2 separate regions of the Homo sapiens genome follow, and region 2 is linked to region 1. The links come from fine-mapping of genetic effects on gene expression. A gene starts in region 1. The other region holds a variant in brackets. All regions are shown on one strand. Distances are from middle to middle. Region 1 holds the start of JAK3 (Janus kinase 3). Region 2 overlaps JAK3 (Janus kinase 3).

Region 1 (13,867 bases):
TCTGAGAAATGGGTAGTGACCATACCTCCCTGGGGCAGGGGTGTGGGCACCTCGAAATGCAAGGAGATGATAAAATTGTACAATCCCTGGGGGCTGGGGGGCACTTCCTACCGAATCCTGTACAGCAGGACTTGGGTGCTGGCATCCTCCACGGAGAAGATGTGGCTCGGGGGGAACCAGCAGGACAGGTCCTCCGTGGCCAGAGCAAAGAGGGAGTGGTACACAGGCAGGATGCCTACAGGGGATGGTCCCATCAGCTCCCTCCTGAGTCACCCCATCTGTGCCCTTCAGGAGTGCCAGCATCATACCCAACCGTCCAGATCCTTCCATACCTCAAGGTATGACCAGCTGTTCCCTTCATGTGCCGTCACACCTCTCCGTCTGCACAGGCCATTCCCTCTGCCTCAGAAGCCAACCCTGCACACCCTTCTCCATTACAAAACTCCTACTCATCCCCCAAAGCCCCAGCTCCGATGCTGACTTCTGCAGGCAACTATTCCAGCTTCCAATCTTGGCCCCACACAGCCCCATCCTTCCCTCTGGCCCGATCCACTAGGGATGCACTCACCGCTGGCCTTGGCAGCCTGCACGCACAGGTCCTCAGCCAAGTGGTCCCCAAAGGAGAAAGATAGGCGCTGGGGGGGCCCGGGGCCCCGAGCGGGCAGCAGCACATGCAGGGCACCAGCCTCCGTGGACAAGAGGCTGCATGAACGCTGAGGGATCAGGGGCGTCTCTTCACTTGGAGGTGCCATGAGTGCAACTTGCCTGGGGCACAGAGAGAAAAAGCCCCTCAGTCCTGGTCAGAGGGGATTGGACTTCTGAGCAGGGAGGGCATGGAAAGGAGTGCTGGAGGCCGGGTGCGGTGGCTTATGCCTGTAATCACAGCATTTTGGGAGGCCGAGGCGGGAGGATCACTTGAGGTCAGGAGTTTGAGACCTGCCTGGCCAACATGGCGAAACCCTGCCTCTAAAAAGTGCAAAACTTAGCCGGGTGTGGTGGTGCGTTCCTGTAATCCCAGCAACTCGGGAGGCTGAGGCAGGACAATCACTTGAACCTGGGAGGCAGAGGTTGCAGTGAGCCAAGATTGTACCACTGCACTCCAGCCTGGACAACAGAGTCAGACTCTGTCTCAAAAAAAAAAAAAAAAAGAAAGAAAGAAAGAAAGAAAGAAGGAAAGCCTCCCTGGGATGGGCCCAGGAGGAAACTGGCCCCCTGCTTCCAGCCCCCAACACCTCCCACCCGCTCGCTCACTTGCCCTGAGAAACCTCAGCACTCAGGGCCCTCAGCTGGGTGGGGCCAGGGGTGGGGCTTCGAGTCCCCTGAGAAAAATTGGGGAGAAAAAGGAGGTCACTCAAATTGACCTGAATGAAGAAGATCTGAAGAAAGTGTTGGGAAAAACAAACAAAAACCTAAGTTCCAGCAGGGCGCAGTGGCTCATGTCTGTAATCCCATCATTTCCGGAGGCCAAGAAGGAAGGATAGCTTGAGACCAGGAGTTTGTTTTATGTTTTTTGCTTTTTTGAGACAGAGTCTCGCGCTGTCACCCAGGCTGGAGTGCAGTGGCGCAATCTCAGCTCACTGCAACCTCCGCCTCCCAAGTTCAAGAGATTCTCGTGCCTCAGCCACCCCAGTAGCTGGGATTACAGGTGGGCACCACCACGCCCAGCTAATTTTCTTGTATTTTTAGTAGAGATGGGGTTTCACTGATCTCAAACTCCTGGCCTCAAGTGATCAGCCTGCCTCAGCCTCCCAAAATGCTGGATTACATGTGTGAGCCACCGCGCCTGGCCGAGACCAGGAGTTTGAAACCAGACTGGGCAATATAGTGAGACCTCCTCTCAAAAAGAAAAAAAAGCCTTGTAATCCCAGCACTTTGACAGGCCGAGGCAGGTGGATCACTTGAGGCTAGGATTTTGAGACCTCATCTCTAAAAAATTAGCAGGGCATGGTGGCACACCCCCATAGTCCTAGCTACTTGGGAGGCTGAGACAGGAGGATGCCTTCAGCTCTGCAAGTTGAGGCTGCATTGAGCTATGATCACACCACTGCACTCCAGCCTGGGCGACAGAGCAAGACCTTATCTCTAGAAAAAAAACACAATACAAAAACTATGATCCAAAATAATGCCCTGTGGCTGGGGTGGGGCGGCATTAATGAGGGTTTTTTTGTTTTTGTTTTGAGACAGAGTCTAGCTCTGTCATCCAGGCTGGAGTGCAGTGGCACAATCTCGGCTTACTCTGCATCCTGGGTTCAAGTGATTCTCCTGCCTCAGCCTCCCAAGTAGCTGGGATTACAGGGGCACGCCACCATGCCCGGCTAATTTTTGTATTTTTGGTAGAGACGGGGTTTCACCATGTTGGCGAGGCTGGTCTGGAACTCCTGACCTCGAGTGATCCTCCTGCCTCGGACTCCCAAAGTGCTGGGATTACCGGCGTGAGAAACTGCGCCTGGCCTAATGAGGTTTAAGACAATCAGAGGACTAGGACCCCTAGGACTCAGCTTTCGCAGCTGTGAAATGGGCTGACTCCCCAGCATCCTCATTGAGGTGGTCTGCTGAGCGCAATCCAGGCCTAAAGTGTCAACTCAATTAATGTGCATTAATTTGTATATTTCTTGATGATGTGCCGGTAAGCGATCAACAAACGCCTGTTAAACCAAACAGGAAGGGCAATTGGCACAGCGGTGTGGTGGTTACTGTGGGAAGGGAAGTCTTGTGGGGGAAAGAACCTTACCAAAGGGACACTTTGATGTCACCGATGCCCAGACCAAGAATGAGCACATTCCTAGTCCCGGGAACCTTGGAGGAGCCCCATCTCTCCCACAGAGAGATTGATGTCTAGTTTTGCCCTTTATAGAAATAAAATCACACACCATAGCCTCTCTATCGTCCCCTCAACATCAGCCAATCAAGTTTTTTGGTTTGTTTGTTTGTTTTTTTGAGACGGAGTCTCGCACTGTCACCCAGGCTGGAGTGCAGTCGCACGATCTTGGCTCACTGTAGCCTCTGCCTCCTGGGTTCAAGCGATTCTCATGCCTCAGCTTCCCAAGTGGCTGGGATTACAGGCGCGCACCACAGCGCCCAGCTAATTTTTGTATTTTTAGTAGAGACGGAGTTTCACCATGTTGGCCAGGCTGGTCTCAAACTCCTGGCCTCAGGTGATTCGCCTGCCTTGGCCTCCCAAAGTGCTGTGATTACACACGTGAGCCACATTGCCCAGCCTTTTTATTTATTTATTTATTTTGTAGGGGGGAGGACGGATTCTTGTTCTGTCTCCCAGGCTGGAGTGCAGTGGCATGATCTCGGCTCACTGCAAACTCCACCTCCCAGGTTCAAGCGATTCTCCTGCCTCAGCCTCCTGAGTAGCTGGAATTACAGGCACCCGCCACCAAACCTGGCTAATTTTTGTGTTTTTAGTAGAGATAGGGTTTCACCATGTTGACCAGGCTGATCTCGAACTCCTGACCTCCAGTGATCCGCTGGCCTCAGCCTCCCAAAGTGTTGGGATTAAAGGCATGAGCCACTGTGCCCAGCCCCAGTCGAGTTTAAAATAAGGCTTCAGTGGCAGTGGCGCCCCACTGCAATCCCAGCTACTCAGGGGGCTGAGGCAGCAGGATAGCTTGAGGCCAGGGGTTAGAGACCTGCCTGAACAACATAGCAAGACTCCCATCTCCAAAACAACAAAAAAATCTTAACAGAATATTATTATTCTGTAATACTGTAACAAAAAAAAATGAAAAGTCAGAGGTGATGTTTGGTCCCAGAAAACGCCATAGTTTTTTTGGTTTTTTAAAAATGTTTGTAGAAATGGAGGTCTGGCTATGTTGCCCAGGCTGGCCTTGAACTCCTGGCCTCAAGCTATCCTCCCGCCTCGGCATCCCCTGTTTATAATCCTCAACGTTCTGCATCCTGGTATGGTCGGGTACCCTGTGTCTGGACCGGGAAGGCCTGGAGGGTAGGGGCTGGGAACTCCGCCCCCCAATCCCTCCTTCCCAATCCCTCCTCCCCACCCCCAACCCCGCAGCCCCCGTCGCGCATGCGCAATGACTCCTCCAGGTCCGCAAGGCAGGCATCTCCCGGCCTTAGTCAAAGCCGAAGCCCAGAGAAGCGAGCGATCGGAGGATGCGAGTCTCGGCTCACGTCTGCCTCGCAGCTTTCCTCCGAGGCCTGGAAGGCGAGCTAGCCTTTGCCCTGGCAGCACCCTGCCCCAGCCCAGCCATCCCCCGCCACCACCATCCTCCCCCAGTGTCTGGGCCGAGCCCTGCGGCATCGCCAGCTCTTACCTAGCGGGCAGGGACCCTGGACTTTCGAAGGGCGGGCAGAGCCGGGAGGCAGCGAGAGGAAAGTCCCACTCGGCTCCTTCCTGTGTGGGCCCCTTGGTTTCCTGAGCCACTGTCATTTACCGAAAGTCAGGGCCCTGCGGGAGCTGGGGGCGGGGAGGCGGGCAAGGAGGGGCAGAAAGTTCCGGAAGCCTCTGCATCAGCCGCCCCGTTCAGACAGGCTGCTGGAGACCCCTAAGCCAAAGGAACTGATGATAGCACAGAGAAGGGTCTGGGTCACACCAGGGGCTCAGCCGACTCTAGACCCACTTGTTAAGTGGGGCTCTGGCCCGGCCCTTATTGCCTCAGTTTACCCATCTGTAGCATGTGTGAGTTGGGCACCCAGTGGAACTAATTTTGCACCCAGGGAAGGAAACCTGGCTGGATTTGCCCAGGAGGGAAGCAGGGAAGTTGCCCCAGAGGAAGGTCAAGTTCTTCTTTGAGGTATTTCTCCCTTAAGACTCAGGGAGACGCTGGGCGCAGTGGCTCACGCCTGTCATCCCAGCACTTTGGGAGACTGAGGCGGGCGATTACTTGAGGTCAGGAGTTTGAGACCAGCCTAGCCAACATGGCGAAACTCCGTCTCTACTAAAAATACAAAAATTAGCCAGGCGTGGTGGCCTGTAATCGCAGCACTTTGGGAGGCTGAGGCGGGCGGATCACTTGAAGTCAGGAGTTTGAGACCAGCCTGGCCAACATGATGAAACCCTGTCTCTACTAAAAACAGGAAAATTAGCCAGGCCTGGTGATGCCTGTAATCCTAGCTACTCAGGAGGCTGAGGTGGGAGGATTGCTTGAATCTAGGAGGCGGATGTTACAGTGAGACGAGATGGCGCCACTGCACTCCAGCCTGGCAACAGAGCGGGACTTCGTTTAAAAAAAAAAGAAAAGACTCAGGGAGAGATAATGACCCATTTCTGCCTGTGGTGCCCTGGGCCCAGCCCTAAAAAACCAGGTGGATCCGGCCTGGCCTCTTGGAACTTGTGATCTGGCGCTGAGACAATGAGCAAATGAAGGAGCCAAATCATCGCAGACAACAAAGAAAGCCAGGGTGTCAGGACAGGCACAGACTGGAACTTGGACCCGAGGCAGGACAGGGAGCTGGCCAGGGAAAGGGTGCTCCAGGAGGAGGGCACAGGATGGGCAAAGACCTTGAGAGGGCAGTGATCTTAGCAGCTTGAAGAGCAGTCAGGAGGCCAGGGGCAGGGGTGAGATGAGGGGGAAGGGGACTGCAGGGCGGTCAACAGGGGCAAGATCGTGGGGGGACAGGGGGATCAGGGTCTTTGGGAGAAGGGTGGGTTTTGCCTGGAGCATAATCTGGAGCCACAGGAGAGTTGGAAGTAGGAGCTGTTATAAATAGAAGAGGCAGAAGGCCCGGGCAGCATCCAAATGCAGAGACTTGGGCCAGTGTTCTTAGGATAATAGGATCAGAGCCCCGGAAGTAGAGCTTCAGGAATAGACTGACGAAGTGGTGACCGGGTACAGTGGCTCACATCTGTAATTCCAGCACTTTGGAAGGCCCAGGTGGGAAGATTGCTTGAGCCTAGGAGTTCGAGACCAGCCTGGCCAACATGGTGAAACCCCATCTCTACTAAAAATATAAAAATTAGCTGGGCGTGGTGGCATGTGCCTGTAATCCCAGCTACTTGGGAGGCTGAGGCAGGAGAATCACTGGAACCCAGGAGGCAGGCGGAGGTTGTAGTGAGCTGAGATTGTGCCACCGCACTCCAGCCTGGGCGACGGAGCAATACTCTGTCTCAAAAAAAAAAAAAGGAATAGATTTAAGAAGTTGTGGCCAAGAACAGTGGCTCACACCTGTAATCTCAGCACTTTGGGAGGCTCAGGCAGGAGGATGGCTTGAGCCCAGGTGTTCGAGACCAGCCTGGGCAACATGGTGAAACCCTGTCTCTACAAAAAATACAACAACAACAAAATAATAAGCTGGATGTGGTGGCATGTGCCTGTAGTCCCAGCTACTAGGGGAGGCTGAGGTGGGAGGATCACCTGAGCCCAGGAAGTTGAGGCTGCAGTTAGCTGTGGTCATGCCACTGCACTCCAGCCTGGGCAATGGGAGTGAGATCCCGTCTCAAAAAAAAAAAAAAAAAGACTTTTCATCTCTGTATCACCATCACAAGTCTTAACACAAAATGGTTTGGTAAGTATTTTGTTGATCTTAACTGTTCAATCAGCCAGAGGCTTATTGGACACAGCCTGTGTGCAGGGAATCGGGGACAATGCAGACCCAATCCCTGTCCAGGGGAGCTGACAGTCCAGCAGGGGAGATGGCAATAAACAAGCTATTGCCCAATAATTATATCAGTTGCCCCTGGGACCGGTCTGCTAAGAGAGATGACTGGATCTGGGAGGGCTTCCTGGAGGAGGTGGCTTTGATTCTGAAATCCAACAACAAGTGGGACTAGCCAGAGAGTGACCTGAGAATGTGGGAGTGTGGGCAGTTCTGGCAGGCAGAACAGCCCAGGCAAAGGCCTGGAGGCTTCACGAATTCACAGTGTTCCTGAGAAGAGCAGGATGTCAGGGACACGGGGGGCTGAGACTCATTTGATGGCGTGGGTAGGGCCGCGTGGGTCAAGGGAAAGAGATATAGATTATGTCCTCAGCTTAGTGGAGCTTAGTGGAGCCACAGCTGACCTGCGGCAGGAAGTGCCAAGCAGAAGCTTAGTTGTAGTGTTTTCTTTCACTTCCTGGGTGGCTTCAGCAGACGGGAATGCAACCTTATGTTCTCATCCTTGGCCTGAGGCTGAAGCCTCTGCTTTCCGGAAGTACAGTGAGTTTCTGGGTCTCTGCTACCTCCAGTGTGATGGTTTCTGCAATATTTTGAGAATAAGTAAGAGGAGATTGGGGTGAGGACCAAAGTGGTACCTTCAGCCCCAGAGAAGGGCATGTGAAGGCTCTAAAAGGAAGTTCTGGCCGGGCGCGGTGGCTCACGCCTATAATCCCAGCACTTTGGGAGGCCGAGGCGGGCGGATCGCCTGAGGTTAGGAGTTCGAGACCGGCCTTGCCAACCTGGTGAAACCCCATCTCTACTAAAAATACAAAACGCAGCTGGGTGTGGTGGCGGGCGCCTGCAGTCCCAGCTACTCAGGAGGCTGAGGCAAGAGAATCACTTGAACCTGGGAGGCGGAGGTTGCAGTGAGCCGAGATCGCACAACTGCACTCCAGCCTGGGCGACACAGCAAGACTCCGTATCAAAAAATAAATAAATAAATAAATAATTTTTTTTAAAAAAAGGAAGTTCTGGGGACAGAACCCAGAACTTGCCCGAGAAAAATGGGGCACGTCAGTGATGCAAACACCCAGATTTTTCTGCTGACAAGAAGTCCATAAATACAATCAAAGAATAAAATACAATCAAAGTGTAACTGGAAACAAAATTGAACTCATGGATAAAATATCCTCGTTATATAAGTAACATCTAGAAAGCAGTAAGAAAATGCCAACCAGTTAGGTGGATATGAATCCAGAAGTCAGAGAAAATGGAGGACAAATAGCTCTTAAACCCAGAAAAATTTCCTCAGCTTCACTTGCCAAATGAAAATTAAGAGTACAGTGAGGCAGGGCCAGGCACGGTGGCTCATGCCTGTAATCTGAGCACTTTGGGAAGTCAACATGGGAGGATCATTTGAGCTCAGGAGTTGGAGATTAGCCTGGGCAACATGGTGAGATCCGTCTCTACAAAACATACAAAAATTAGCCAGGCATGGTGGTGTGCACCTGTAGTCTCAGCTACTTGGAAGACTGAAGTGGGAGGATGGCTTGAGTCCAGGAGGCAGAGGTTGCAGGGAGCCAAGATAGTGCCACTGTACTCCAGCCTGGGCGACAGAGCGAGACTACATCTCAAAAACAAAAACAAAAATGGTAAAAGACTGAATAACTTCCTCCTGAGATTGGAAACAAGACAAGGATGTCCATTTTCACCACCTCTATTCAACATTGTTCTGGTGATGTTAGCCACTGTAATAAGAAAAGAAAAAGCAGGCTGAGGCAGGAGAATGGTGTGAACCAGGGAGGCGGAGCTTGCAGTGAGCCAAGATCGGGCCACTGCACTCCAGCCTGGGTGACAGAGTGAGACTCCGTCTAAAAAAAAAAAAAAAGAAAGAAAGAAAAGAAAAGCTGGGCATGGTGGCTCACGCCTGTAATCCCAGCACTTTGGGAGGCTGAGGTGGGAGAATCACAAGGTCAGGAGTTCAAGACCAGCCTGATCAACATGGTGAAACCCCATCTCTACTAAAAATACAAAAATTAGCCAGGCATGGTAAAAATACAAAAATTAGCCGTGCGTGGTGATGCGCGCCTGTAATCCCAGCTACTCAGGAGGCTGAGGCAGGAGAATCGCTTGAACCCGGGAGGTGAAGGTTGCAGTGAGCCAAGATCGCGCCACTGCACTCCAGCCTAGGTGACAGAGGGAGACTCTGTCTCAAAAAAAAAAAAAAAATTAAAAATTGGCAGGGTGTGATAGCTCACACCTGTTGTCCCAGCTATTTGGGAGGCTGAGGATTGCTTGAGTCAGGGAGGACAAGGCTGCAGTAAGCCATCATCACACCATTACACTCCAGTCTGGGCAACAGAGCGAGATCCTGTCTTAAAACAAAAAAATATATGAGAAAAATAAACAAGTCAGGTGTGGCTGGGCATGGTGATACATGCTTGTAGCCTCAGCTACTGGAGAAGCTGAAATGGGAGCCCAAGAATTTAAAGGCAACATAGCAAGATTCTGTAACAAGCAAAACAGAATAAAATAAGTAATAAAAAAAAGGTAAATAAAACTGTTGCTATTTGCTGATGATATGATTGTTTATGTCAAAAACCCAAGGGAATCTATAAGACAACTACTGAAATTAATACATAAATTCAGCAAGTTACCAGGTTTAAAAAGTCCGTTGAATTCAATACAAAAGTCAATTGAATTTTTATACACCAGCAGCAAACAATTGGAACATAAAAAAATTTTGAAAAATTTCCTTTGCAGCAGCACTGAAAAAGATAAAATACTGTGATGGTCTGAGAGTTTGCGTCTCCCCAAAATTAATACATTGAAATCCTAACCTCGAAGGCGGTGGTATTCAGAATCGGAACCTTTTAAGAGGTGATTAGATCATGAGGGTTGAGCTCTCATGAATGGGATTAATGCCCTTATAAAAGAGGCCCCTAGGCTGGGCATGGTAGCTCACGCCTGTAATCCCAGCACCCTGGGAGAATTGCAGGCTGGTCTCTGACAAACAACTTGTGTTTGAGACCAGCCTGGGCAATGTGGCGAAACACCACCTCTACCAAAAAAAACACAAAAATTAGCTGGGCATGGTGGTGCACACCTGTAGTCCCAGGTCAGGAGTTTGAGGCCAGCCTGATCAACGTGGAGAAACCCCATCTCCACTGACAAAACAAAATTAGCTGGATGTGGTGGTGCATGCCTGTAATTCCAGCTACTTGGGAGGCTGAGGTGGGAGAATCGCTTGAACCCAGGAGGTGGAGGCTGCGGTAAGCCGAGATCACACCATTGCACTCCAGCCTAGGCAACAAGAGCAAAACTCTGTCTCAAAAAAAAAAAAAAAAAAAAAAAAGGCCGGGTGCAGTGGCTCATGCCTGTAATCTTAGCACTTCGGGAGGCCAAGGTGGGTGGATCACCTCAGGTCAGGAGTTCAAGACCAGCCTGGCCAACATGGTAAAACCCCGTCTCTGCTAAAAATACAAAAATTAGCTGGGTGTGGTGGCGCACGCCTGTAATCTCAGCTACTCTGGAGGCTGAGGAAGGAGAATCGCTTGAACTCGGGAGGTGGAGGTTGCAGTGAGCTGAGATCGCGCCACTGCATTGCACTCAAGGTTGCGTGACAGGAAAGAGGCTACATCTCAAAAAAAAAAAAAAAAAAAAAAGAAGGCCAGGGACCTGGAGTCCGGAGTGCATACAAGTGGGTGGCTTTGCAGTGTTTTGAGGACCAACGGTCAGAAACCAAGATTTGGGTGTCTTGGGCCCAGCCTTGGGAAGGCACTGGTGCCAGTAACTGAGATGAGGGAAAGAGTGGGAAGGATGAGGCACATCAGCATTGTGAACGCTCCGTGATCCAAGCTGTGGCTTGGCCCAGGATCCTGGATGAACAAACTGGTGCCTTCAAAGTCCCTGGGAAAAAGACAGGGGGGACAGGGGTGCCCTTGGACAGCCCTGCTAACCAGGAACTCCTCGCCTGGGCCCCACTGGATGGTGATAACAGAGACACAGAGTAGCCCAGGACCAGCCTGCTCAGGTCAGATTCCTGCATGGCCCGAGGTGGGGGCAGAGGAATCCTGCCAGGCCAGGTGTGTCACTAGGAAGCCGGGGCCACGGCATCACTCAGGCACCGACAACATGTAAAAGAAAGAAAAATAATAAAGCTTTTTTTTTTCTTTTAAATTAAGACAGTTTCACTCTGTTGCCCAGGCTGGAGTGCAGCGGCATGATCTTGGTTCACTGCAACCTCTGCCTCTAGGGTTCAAGTGATTCTCGTGCCTCAGCCTCCCGAGTAGCTGGGATTACAGGTGTGTGTCACTGCACCCAGCTAATTTTTGTATTTTTGGTAGAGACGGGGTTTCACCATGTTGGCCAGGCTGGTCTCGACTCCTGACCTCAAGTGACCTGCCCGCTTCAGCCTCCCAAAGTGCTGGGGTTACAGATATGAGCCACTGTGCCCAACCAAAAAGAAAAATAATAAAGCTCTGGGCCGGGCGCGGTGGCTCACGCCTGTAATCCCAGCATTTTGGGAGGCTGAGGTGGGTGGATTATCTGAGGTCAGGAGTTCAAGACCAGCCTGTCCAACATGGTGAAACCCCGTCTCTACTAAAATTACAAAAATTAGCCGGGCGTGGAGGCAGATGCCTGTAATCCCAGCTACTCAGGAGGCTGAGGCAGGAGAGGATGGCTTGAACCCAGGAGGCAGAGGCTGCAGTGAGCTGAGATTGTGCCACTGCATTCCAGCCTTGGCAATGGAGTGAGACTCCGTCTCAAAAAAAAAAAAAAAAAGGAAACAAGAAACCCTGTCTCTACAAAAATTAGCCAGGCATGATGATGGGTGCCTGTAATCCCAGCTACTCTGGAGGGTGAGGCAGGAGAATCGCTTGAACCTGGGAGGCAGAGGCTACGGTGAGATGAGATCACGCCATTGCATTCCAGCCTGGGGAACAGAGTGAGACTCCATCTCAAAAAAAAAAAGAAACTAAAGAAAAATAATAAAGCTTTGAAACAAACAGCACATCACGACCCGTGCCCTTCCCCACCCTGGCATGCCCCTCCCTCCACTCCAACCCAGGCCTTGAAGGCAGAAGCACGAGGCCCCAAGGCCAGGGCTGGGTCTCAGGGATCTCCCTCTCGTCTTCTTCCTCCTCCCCTGTCCTCCCTAAATTCCTTTTCCTGCCCCGTTCCTGCTGTCCCAGGATCCAATTTGTGCTCCAGGCTGCGCTCTGCCCTTTCCAGCATCTCTTTCCACCTGCTTGTAGCCGCTCAGCACTTTGGGGAAACTGAGGCCAGAGCGGTGAGTTCCAGCACAGAGGGAAGGGCAGGGCCTCAACCTTCCCAGTCCAAACAATCATACGCCATTTAAATCTCACAACAACCCTAAAAGCTGGCGACTATTATTGGCCTCATTTTGTGGAAGGGGAAACTGAGGCCCAGAGCGGCAACGCGGCCAGCGAACCATCGGTAAGATTTGAACCTGGTTGTGTATCATTCAACGGTCTAGCGCTTGGCCTCAGCTGGGCCACCGCAGATGGGACATGGTTCTGCTGCCACCTGGTGGACACTCGCGGCAGCGCTGTTGGGATAGAGCCGCCTCTCACCTGACGTCCTGCCCCGAAAAGCCCAGCCAGAGGAGGGCTGACCTGCTCCCCTGGCCTCCCTGCCCCGCATCACGCCCATCAGTTTTCCGAATTTTCACAGTCTAAGTGTCCACCAGGAAGGGACTGGGTAACTAACCACCTGTGCTACAGTTGGGCTAAAGATTTTAGTGCAAAAGTTAATTTGCCCACCTCACAAGAAATACTAAAAAAATGTATATTTTTTCGAGACAGAGTCTCACTCTGTTGCCCAGGCTGGAGTACAGTGGCACAATCTCGGCTCACTGCAACCTCCGACTCCCAGGCTCAAGCGATTCTCATGCCTCAGCCTCTCAAGTAGCTGGGACTACAGGCACCCGCCACAATACCCAGCTAATTTTTGTATTTTTTAATAGAAGCGGGGTTTCACCATGTTGGCCAGGCTGGTCTCGAGCTCCTGACCTCAGGTGATCCACCCACCTGGGCCTCGCAAGGTGCTGGGATTACAGGCGAGAGCCACCGTACCCACCCAAAATAAATTCTTTAGGCTGAAAACAAGGGACCCCAGACATGTATTCCAATCCACGTGAAAATCTGAAGAACACATATAAAGGTAATGTATGTAATTTTAAAAGATTGCATAAGGCCGGGTGCTTTGGCTCACGCCTGTAATCCCAACACTTCAGGAGGCTGAGGTGGGCAGATCAATTGAGCCTAGGAGTTCAAGACCAGCCTGGGCAACACAGAGAGACCTTGTCTCTACAAAAAATACAAAACTTGGCCGGGCACGGTGGCTCACACCTGTAATCCCAGCACTTTGGGAGGCCGAGGCGGGTGGATCACGAGGTCAGGAGTTTAAGGAAAAAAATATAAAACTTAGCTGGGTTTCATGGCATCCGTCCTAACTACTCGGGAGGTCTGAGGTGGGAGAATCTCTTGAACCTGGGAGTTCGAGGCTGCAGTGAACAGAGATCTCGCCACTGCACTCCAGCCTGGGCAACAGAGTGAGATCCTGTATCAAAAAAATAAGGCTGGGCACAATGGCTCACGCCCATGATCCCAGCACTTTGGGAGGCCGAGGCAGGCAGATCACGAGGTCAGGAGATTGAGACCATCGTGGCTAACATGGTGAAACCCCATCTCTACTAAAAATACAAAAAATTAGCCGGGCATGGTGGCGGGCACCTGTAGTCCCAGCTACTCGAGGGGGCTGAGGCAGGAGAATGGCATGAACCCGGGAGGCGGAGATTGCAGTGAACTGAGATCACGCCACTGCACTCCAGCCTGGGTGACAGAGTGAGACTCCGTCTCAAAAAATAATAATAATAAATAAATAAAAATAAGATCTGCCAGTGACAGTGGCTCATGCCTGTTATCCCAGCATGTTCGGAGGCCATGACGGGCAGACCACTTGAGGTCAGGAGTTCAAGACCAGCCATAGCCAACATGGCGAAACTCTTGTCTCTACTAAAAATTAAAAAAAAAATTAGCCAGGCATGGTGCCGCACATCTGCAATTTCAGCTACTTGGGAGGCTGAGGCAGGAGAATCATTTGAACCTGGGAGGCAGAGGTTGCAATGAGCCAAGATTGCACCACTGCCCTCCAGCCTGGGTAATGGAGTGAGACCCTGTCTCAAAATAAATAAATAAAAATAAAATGTAGCATAAATGCAAATTTCTTCTCTCTTTGCCTCTTAACATATTTAAAAAGCAATTGTACAAAACTATATATTGGCCGGGCCCGGTGGCTCATG
Region 2 (10,218 bases), 24 kb before region 1:
CCTGCACGTGTGCATCTGCGCCTACGTGCACCTGCCCCACCTCGGCTTCCCAGAGCGCTGTCCCTGCCCGTCCCCACTCACGGTCGCCTCCGGTCGCAGGCCTCCTGGCTTCGGTGGACCAGCGGGGGCCCCCGCACACGCGCACTAGCGCGCGTACGAAGTGGTGGCCGCACAACTTCTCACGCATCTCTGGGGTGGGCGCGGGGCCCAACGCGAACACCAGGGCAGGGCCCAGCAGCACCAGCGCCCAGGCGGGCAGACGGGGGTCCATGGTGGTGGGTGGCGCCGGGGCCAAGCGGGGACCCCCTTTATAGGCGCCTGGGCCGTCCCAGCTGGGGGCCTTGGAGAAGGGACAGAACATTCTTCAGGACCGCCCAGGAAAAAGGTCAAGGGTGGGGTTAGTGCCAGAGCCTTTCTCCCAGGGCCAGGGCCTTGGATGTACTTCTCCCAGAGGGAGCACTGGGCAACGAGTCTTTCTTTTTTATTTTTTTCTTCTTTTTTTTTGAGATGGAGTCTCACTCTGTCACCCAGGTTGGAGTGCAGTGACTTGATCTCGGCTCACTGCAACTTCTGACACCCGGGTTCAAGCGATTCTCCTGCCTCAGCCTCCTGAGTAGCTGGGATTACAGGTGCGCACCACTATGCCTGGCTAATTTTTTTTTTTTTATTTTTTATTTTTAGTAGAGACTGGGGTTCGCCATGTTGGCCAGGCTGGTCTCCAACTCCTGACCTCAAGCGATCCATCTGCCTCGGCCTCCCAAAATGCTGGGATTACAGGCATGAGCTGTGCCTGGACTATTATTATTTTTATTATTATTATTGAGACAAAGTCTTGCTCTGTCTTCCAGGCTGGAGTGCAGTGATGCGATCTCGGCTCACTGCAACCTCCACCTCCTGGGTTCAAGTGATTCTCCCACCTCAGCCTCCCAAGTAGCTGGGATTACAGGTGTAAGCCACCACGCCCAGCCACCTATTTTTATTTTTTATTTTTGAGATGAGTTCTTGCTCTGTTACCCTGGCTGGAGTGCAGTGGCACGATATGGGCTCACTGCCACCTCCCTATCCCTGACTCAAGCAATTCTCCCACCTCAGCCTCCTGAGTAGCTGGGACTACAGGCCCACGCCACCACACCCGGCTAATTTTTTGTATTTTTTTTGTAGAGATGGGGTTTTGCCATGTTGCCCAGGCTGGTCTCAAACTCCTGGACTCAAGTCATCTTCCCGCCTCAGCCTCCCAAAGTCCTGGGATCACAGGCGAGAGCGACCACACCAGGGTATTTATTCATTTTTGACATAGGATCTCTCTGGGTTGGCCTGTAATGGCAGGATCATAGCTCACTGTAACCTCATTCCCCTGGGCTCAAGCGATCCTTCAGCCTCTGCCTCCTGAGTAGCTGGGACTACAGGCCTGCAATACAATGCCCAGCTAATTTTTAATTTTTTAATTTTTATTTTTATCTTTTTAGACAGAGTCTTACTCTGTCACCCAGGCTGGAGTACAGTGGTGCGATCTCGACTCACTGCAACCTTTGCTTCCTGGGTTCAAGCGATTCTCCTGCCTCAGCCTCCTGAGTAGCTGGGATTACAGGTGCCCACCACCAAGCCTGGCTAATTTTTGTATTTTTTAGCAGAGACGGGGTTTCACCATGTTGGCCAGGCTGATCTCAAACTCCTGACCTCAAGTGATCCACCCGCCTCGGCCTCCCAAAGTGCTGGGATTACAGGCGTGCACCAACGCGCCCGGCCATTTTTAATTTTTTAATTGTAGAGGCAGGGGTCTTGCTATGTTGCCCAGGCTCATCTAGAACTCAAGTGGTTCTCCCTACTCGGCCTTCCAAAATGCTGGGATTACAGGTGTGAGGCACCACACACGGCCAAGTCTTCGCTATTGTCTTAACCAGTTTAAAGAGATGAAATAGATCAACTGAAAAGTAATAATCCTGCCTTTTCTGGGGGGCAGGGGGGAAGACAGCGGGCATCTTCCAAGACCAGAAATGTTCAGAATTTTGTTGTTTCTATTACTGTACAAATGAGAAAACTGAGGCACACAGGCCAGGTGCAGTGGCTCATGCCTGTAATGCAAGCACTTTGGGAAGATGGGGCAGGTGGATCACTTGAGGTCAAGAGTTCGAGACCAGCCTGCCCAATATGGTGAAACTCTGTCTCTACTAAAAATACAAAAATTAGCCAGATGTGGTGGTGCATGCCTATAATCCCAGCTACTCGGGAGGCTGAGGCAGGAGAATCACTTGAACCCAGGAGGTGGAGATTGCAGTGAGCCGAGATGGTGCCGCTGCACACCAGCCTGGGGACAGAGACTCCGTCCCCTCACCAGACAAAAAGAAAGAAAAGAAAAGAAAAAAAGAAAACTGAGGCACAGAGAAAGGACCCCAAACTTGCCCAAGGTCACAGGAGGCTGAGCAGAGCCCAGGTCTTCTCAAGGCGCCTGACACGCAGGGCTGGGGGTGTCCCATCCGAAGCTCTGTCTCCCCAACACGGTTGTCCCCTCTGGGTGAGCAGGGGCTGGTGGACCCAGAATAGAGCAGGATTTATTTGTTCAGTGGATGCTTGGCCCCCGCTTCATGCCTAGGGGGTCTTATAGCTTTGTTTTTCCAAGGAGGGAATCTGAGGTTGAGAGAGGGAAGGATGCTTGACCCTAGGCAGGAGAGAACCTGGGCTGGAACTCGAGTCTTGCTTGACCCCAGAGCAGCTCCCTCCCTATTTCTACCAAATTAGGGGGCCCTCTGGGGCTAAGAGAGCAGGGACAGGGATCTCTCTCTCTCTCTCTCTCTGAGTCTCTCTCGGCCTTCATCTCTCAGTTTCCTTCTGTATGTCTGTCTCTGTCCGCATTTTTCTTTTTTTTGAAACGGAGTCGCTCTGTCGCCCAGGCTGGAGTGCAATGGCATGATCTCAGCTCACTGCAACCTCCACATCCCAGTTTCAAGCAATTCTTCTGTCTCAGCCTCCTGAGTAGCTGGGATTACAGGCATGTGCCAGAACACCAGGCTAATTTTTGTATTTTTAATAGAGACGGTTTCGCCATGTTGGCCAGGCTGATCTCATACTCCTGACCTCAAGTGATCCTCCTGCCTTGGCCTCTTAAAGTGCTGGGATTACAGACGTGAGCCACTGAGCCTGGCCACTCTCCACATCTTTCTAGCAGTTATGAGGTGCACATGACGGGGGCCGGTCGGTGGGGAGGTGGTCCGGCCCCAGTGATGCTGGTCCCCTCCCCACAGCCTCGCTCCCCCAACCTGGCCTTGTCCTCTGACCACCGGGAGAGCATCCTGTTCCTTCCCCACCCACAGAGAGCCTGTAATCAGCTCCCCCAGGCTGCAGCCAAGGCCAGCAGCTGGGGCTGGGAGTGAGGGGGCTCTGTCCTTGAGGGCCCCAGCCAAGCCCCACCCAGTGGTCCTCCTCCACCAGCCTGCCCTGGGGCCCCCACAGTGGCTCCCTGAGAGGTCTCTGGCCCACAGCTCTAACCGCATCCCTCCCAGCTCACACACCCTCTGAGGCTCCCCATCGCCCCAAGTCCAGCACAAAATCTTTTCCACTGAATTCCTTTATTCAGTCAACAAACATTTCCAGAGCCCCCTCTGTACTGAGGCCTCAGCCCAGCCCCCAAGGAACCCTGAGGTCAGGGGAGACAGCTGGACACAGACACTTCCCCAGCCCCAGGGCCAGAGTGGGGCTGGAGGGAAGGACAGGGCTACAGTAGTAGTGGGGGTATATGAGGGAAGGCTGCAAGGATGTGGTAGCTGGAGTTTTGAGAGATGGATAAGAGTTTTCCAAGGAGGCAAAAGTGGCAGAAAAGCTTTGCAGGTGAGGAGGAGCAGCAGAAGCTTAACCTGCATGAGAATCCCTCTCACCAGTCAGAAAGTTGACCCTGCACAGCCAAGGGGTAAGCTCTGACCATTTTGCAGGGGACAGAACTGAGACCCAGAGAGGGAAAGGAACTTGCCCACTGTCACACTGCATGGAAGGGGCAAAACTGTAGGCTCCAATACTTGGGCTCTTAACCTCCTTACTCTGAGCCTTCTCACGCTTGGCATGCTGTTCCCTCTGCCAGGAATGCCTTTCCTTCCCTTGATTGCGTGAAAAGTTCCTGCCAGGTTTGGTGTCATCCCTTTGTGCCCCTTGTAGGGTGAGGACAGAAAGGGTCCCATTGGACAGGTGGGAAAACTGAAGCCCTAGGACACTCAGATACCATTAGGGTGGACTGGGACCCCAGCCTTTCCTGCCCCCTTTCAGGATCCCAAAGAGATACACGGGCTCCCCTAAAAGGCAGAGTCCCAGCCACAGCAACTGCTCTTGTCCTTGGCTTCCTCCAGAGAAACAGAGATCGGGGAGCAGAAGTCAGATCATACATTTAAAGCTACATGAGGGCCGGGCGCAGTGGCTCATGCCTGTAATCCCAGCACTTTGGGAGGCCGAGACGGGCAGATCACGAGGTCAGGAGATGGAAACCATCCTGGCTAACAAGGTGAAACCCCGTCTCTACTAAAAATACAAAAAATTAGCCGGGTGTGGTGGCGGGCGCCTGTAGTCCCAGCTACTTGGGAGGCTGAGGCGAGAGAATGGTGTGAACCCAGGAGGCGGAGCTTGCAGTGAGCCTAGATTGCGCCACTGTACTCCAGCCTGGGCGACAGAGCGAGACTCCGTCTCAAAAAAAAAAAAAAAAAAAAAGCTACATGAATGTCCCCATTGGAAATAAGACAGGAAACTCAAAACTAGGTGCTGTAGTCCCAGCTATTTAGGAGGATAAGGCAGGAGGATCACTGTAGCCCAGGAGTTCAAGACCAGCCTGGGCAACGTAGCAAGATCCTGTCTCTTAAAAATAATAATAATAAATTTAAAAAAAAAAAAGCCTGGGTGCAGTGGCTCATGCCTATTATTCCAACACTTTGGGAGGCTGAGGTGGGAGGATCACTTGAGGTTAGGAGTTCGAGATCAGCCTGGCCATCATGGTGAAACCTCATCTCTATTAAAAATAAAAAAAATTAGCCGGGTGTGGTGGTGCACACCTGTAATCCCAGCTACTCGGGAGGCTGAGGCAGGAGAATCGCTTGAACCTGGGAAGCAGAGGTTGCACTGAGCCGAGATCGCACCACTGCACTCCACCCTGGGTAACAGAGCGAGGCTCTGTCTCAAAAATAAAAATAAAAATAAAAAAAATAAAAAGAGAGAGACAGAAAAGGAAACTCAGGGGGCCAGGGCTTAAGGGGTTGGGAAGATGCGAGAGTCTTAAATTTGGTTCCTTGCTTCTTTGGGCCAGGACTCAGAGAGCCCCACTGACACATATGCCCATCTGTCTTGAACCTTAACAAATTGCAAAGGCCACAGGCTATTCTACAGGCCACGGGAGCCCCCCCAAATGCAATGTCATGGGGGTGTTCCTGAAGTAGAGGACCCTCATAAGGCCTCTGAGGCCCAGAGAGGGGCAGCTCCGGGCCTAAGGTCACACAGCCAGTCAACAGAGACCTAATCCAGAGGTCTGCGGGCAGGAGCTATGAAAAGGACAGGGAGTGGTGTTTGCCCTCTGGGTGAGCAGTGAAGGCATGAGTCTCACACCCCCGGCTTCCGCTCCACAGCATGTCCAGCTGGGGGCCCAGGGCGCTGAATGATGGCCGGTCCTGTGGGCTAGGGGCCCAGCACAGCTTCATGAGCTCGTGAACCTGAGGGGCGGGGGACAGATAATGGGGTCGTGCCTGAGCAGTCCAAAGGACACAACTCCCATTCAGCGTATTTGTTTTTGTTTTTTTGAGACGGAGTCTAGCTCTGTTGTCCAGGCTGGAGTGCAATGGCATGATCTCGGCTCACTGCAACCTCCGCCTCCCGGGTTCAAGCAATTATCCTGCCTCAGCCTCCTGAGTAGCTGGGATTATAGGCACGTGCCACCACGCCTGGCTAATTTTGTATTTTGAGTAGAGACAGGGTTTCACCATGTTGGCCAGGTTGGTCTCAAATTCCTGATCTCAGGTGATCCACCTGTCTTGGCCTCCCAAAGTGCTGGGATTATAGGCATGAGCCACCGCACTCATTCAGTTTTAAAACACAAATTAAATTCCATCCCATCTCTGCTCCAAAAACTCCCATGGCTCCCTATGGATCTTACTTATTTATTTATTTGAGATAAAGTTTCGCTCTTGTTGCCCAGGCTGGAATGCAGTGGTGCGATCTCGGCTCACTGCAAACCCTGCCTCCTGGGTTCAAGCGATTCTCCTGCCTCAGCCTCCCAAGTAGCTGGGATTACATGCACACACCGCCACACCTGGCTAAGTCTGTATTTTTAGTAGAGACGGGGTTTCACCATGTTGGTCAGGCTGGTCTTGAACTCCTGACCTCATGTAATCCACCCACCTCGGCCTCCTAAAGGGCTGGGATTACAGGTGTGAGCCACCGCGCCCAGCCCTTATGGATTTTACAACACACTTCTCCTTTCGAGAC[T/C]ACCCTGACCAACATGGAGAAACCCCATCTTAACTAAAAAAAAAAAAAAAAAAAAAAAAAAAAAAAAAAAAAAAAAATTACAGGTGGCGTGTGCCTGTAATCCCAGCTACTCGGGAGTCTAAGGCAGGAGAATTGCTTGAACCTGGGAGGCGGAAGTTGTGGTGAGCCGAGATTGCGCCATTGCACTCCAGCCTGGCCAACAAGAGCAAAACCACGTCTCAAAAAAAAAAAAACAACAAAAAAACACCACCTCTCCCTGATGCCCTCCTTCGCTCATCTCCATCCCTCCTTCCCTCATTTGTTCCGGGCAGTCACATCTGCCTCCATCGCACTGGTGCTTAAAGGCACCCAGCTCATTACCTCCCCAAGGCCTTTTTCCCTTCCGTGTCCTCCACTGGAAATTTCTTCTCCTAGCTTTACTCATGGGTAGGCTCCTCCTCCTTCCAGCGTCGGCCCCGTAAGAGGCCCTCTTTGACCACCCCCACCCCACCATTTCCCTCTGTTCATCTCTTTCAAGGCACTTATCACTACCATAATTTTGTCTTTGTTTTGTTTTGTTTTGTTTTGTTTTGTTTTGTTTTGTTTTGTTTTGAGACAGGGTGTCACTCTGTTGTCCAGGCTGGAGTGCAGTGGTACAATAATGGCTCACTGCAGCCTTAACCTCCTGGGCTCAAGCAATCCTCCTGCCTCAGCCTCCCTGGTAGCTGAAACCACAGGTGCATGTCACCACACCGGCTATTGCTTGTATTGTTTGTAGAGACAAGGTCTCACTATGTTGCCCAGGCTGGTCTTGAACTCCTGGGTTCCAGTGATCCTCCTGCCTCAGCCTCCCTAGTAGCTGAAACCACAGGTGCATGTCACCACACCGGCTATTGCTTGTATTGTTTGTAGAGACAAGGTCTCACTACGTTGCCCAGGCTGGTCTTGAACTCCTGGGCTCCAGTGATCCTTCTGCCTCAGCCTCCCAAAGTGTTGGGATTATAGGCATGAGCCATCGTGCCCAGCCTAGAATGTTCTTATCAGATTTTGCTAGTTACTGGGAGGACAGGGTCTTCAGCACCCAACAAGTCCTGGCACACAGTTGGCACTCAATAAATGTTTTTGGCCTGAGCAAATTAATTTATCAATGACCAACTGCATGTCAGACACTTCCACAAAGGTTATGATTATATGATTATAAACCATGAGAGGGTGGGATGTGGTGGCTCACGTCTGTAATCCCAGCACTTTGGGAGGCCGAGGCAGGAGGATCACTTGACCCCACGAGCTCAAGACCAGCCTAGGCAACACAGAGAGACCCCATCTCTTTAAAAAAATTTTTTAAAATTAGCCAGGCACAGTGGCTTATGCCTGTAAATCTCAGCACTTTGGGAGGCCAAGGCAGGAGGATCGCTTGAGCCCAGGAGTTCAAGACCAGCCTGGGCAACATAGCGAGACCTTGTCTCTTAAAAAAATTATTTTTATCTTATTTGTTTGTTTATTTATTTATTTATTTATTTTGAGATGGAATCTTGCTCTGTCGCCCAGGCTGGAGTGCAGTGGCATGATCTTGGCTCACTGAAACCTTCCCCTCCCAGGTTCAAGCAATTCTCCTGCCTCAGCCTCGCAAGTAGCTGAGATCACAGGCACCCACACATGGGTAATTTTTGTATTTTTAGTAGAGACAGGGTGTCACCATGTTGGCCAGGCTAGTCTCGAACTCCTGACCTCCGGTGATCTGACCGCCTCAGCCTTCAAAAGTGCTGGGTTTACAGGTGTGAGCCACCACACCTGGCCAAAATTATTTTTAAATTAGCCAGGCATGGTGATGTACACCTATAGTCCCAGCACTTTGGGAGGCTGAGGCAGGAGAATCGCTTGAGCCCACGAGTTCAAGACCAGCCTGGGCAATATAGTGAGGCTCCCATCTCTAAAAAATTATTTTTAAATTAGCCAAGTGTGGTGGTGTACACCTGTAGCTCCTGCTACTAGAGACACTGAACTAGGGGAATCACTTGAGCTCAGGAGTTGGAGGCTGCAGTGAGCTATAATTGCACCCCAGCCTGGGCAACAGAGTGAGCCCCCATCTATAAAAAAGAAAGAAAGAAAGAAAAAAAAAAACCATGAACGTCACCACCATTTATGGAGCATCGACTGTGTGCTCGGCTTTGAGCTGAGCCCTCATAGGCACAGGTGTTCAGGAGTCTAATCTTCCCTCACCCTATAAGGCATTACTATTCTCATTTTGGAAAAGGGTAAACTGAGGCTCTGAAAGTGCTCTGACTTGCCACACAGTGAGAGAGTAGCCAAGTGGGGGCCAGGATCCTCATCGGCCTCACACTCTAGCCTTTCTTCTCAGTACAGAGACTCAGGCGCCAGCTGGCTTGCCCGAGACCCCGGCCCAATCTACAGACTGGGAAACTGAGGCTAGCCCTGCGGCGCTCACCTCAGCAGGGCAGGCAGGAGGCGCCGGCAGCCTCTGGCCCTCCTCCAGCAGTTCCAAGAGGCGGCAGAGGGCGGGGACATCCCGCTCACATCCCATCATCCGCAGGAACTCCTGGAGCCAAGGAGGAGCGCATGTGGTGGGGGAGGAGCCTCCGTGGGTGGAGGGGGAGGGGCCACCCGTGGTGGGGGTAGGGGCCATCTGTGATGGAGCGGGGAGGGGCTGCCTGAACCGTGAAGGGGTCAGAAAGGTGAGGAAGCGTCCTCCCCACTGGGGCCTATGATGCTGGGACCAGGTGACCCCATGCTAAAGAGGGACGCAGGCGCAGACAGGTTGGAGATTGGCCACGAGGGGCGTGGAGGGAGAAGAAGGCTGGGGGCTCTGGGAAGCCGACTCACGGCCGAGGGGCTGCAGCTTTTGTCGCAGTAGGTGAAGAGCTCGTACAGGACGACCCCGAAGCTCCAGACGTCTGACTGGCGAGAGAAGATGTTGTCCGAGAGGGATTCGGGGGCATACCTGGAGAGGGGACAAGGTCTTGAGATGCGAGGGTGTAGAAAGGACAGGAAGAGGGGGGCAGCCTTGGAATGGGGAACTGGTCAGGGTAGGTGGGGACTGTGAGCAGGTCAGTCCCGTCTCCAGGGTCTCGGTTTCCCTGGCTGTGGGATAGGTGGATTCTCCAGCCCTGGGAGGTGCCTGGGAAGAGCTAAGGCTGTGGGGAGGAGGCGGGGGCAGCACGGAGGGGCGGAGATGGGGGCGGGGCCAGAGCCGTGGGAGGGGGAGGGGCCAGAACTGGGCGGGGGGAAGGGCGGAACTAAGAGGGGGCCAGCCCTGAGGGGCGGAGCCAGCGTGTTGGAGGGGTGGGGTTCTGAAGCTTGGGCGGGGCGAGAGCTGAGAGAAGGGCGGGGCTAAGGCTGGGGGCCGCTGACAGCAGGGCAGCGGGAGACAGAGGAGCCAGTGCTGTTGAGGGGGCGGGGCTCTGGGGAGTGGGAGGGGCCAAAGCTGCAGCGGAGGAAGGGCGGGGCTAAGGCTGGGGAGCAAAGCAGCGGGAGGGGGCGGGGGCATGGCTGGGGGCGGAGCCAGAGCCGTGGGGAATAGGGGCGGAGCCTAGGCGCGGGTTCCCCACCAGAAAATGGGGCTCTGGCCTGGCTCGCGGACCACGTAGTAGTCTTTGTCAAGCGGCAGCAGCTTAGCTAGGCCGAAGTCAGCGATCTTGACGTGTGCCTCGCTCTCCACGAGGATGTTTCGGGCGGCCAGGTCGCGGTGCACGCAGCGGCGGGAGCCCAGGTACTCCATGCCCTGCGGGCGGGCGGTGTGAGCGTGCAGAGAGGATCCCAGGATAATCCGGCAGG

Evidence for each region. PIP is the estimated chance that this variant, and not a neighbour inherited with it, causes the effect.
Region 2: its variant is fine-mapped to the expression of JAK3 in whole blood (INTERVAL, PIP above 0.99).

What each region holds. Positions count from the first base shown.
Region 1 is chr19:17,843,666-17,857,532 of GRCh38, forward strand. JAK3 (Janus kinase 3) reads right to left here and starts at 4,317. Exons shown (of 24, transcript NM_000215.4): 1 at 4,281-4,317; 2 at 569-765; 3 at 112-235. The coding sequence starts at 752.
Region 2 is chr19:17,821,236-17,831,453 of GRCh38, forward strand. JAK3 (Janus kinase 3) reads right to left here. Exons shown (of 24, transcript NM_000215.4): 21 at 9,993-10,165; 22 at 9,268-9,385; 23 at 8,873-8,983; 24 at 3,547-5,675. The coding sequence ends at 5,508. It overlaps INSL3 (insulin like 3), which reads right to left and starts at 284. Exons shown (of 2, transcript NM_005543.4): 1 at 82-284. The coding sequence starts at 271. RefSeq lists a silencer at 9,798-9,847 and an enhancer at 9,819-10,218. The variant T/C (reference allele first, on the strand shown) is at 6,448.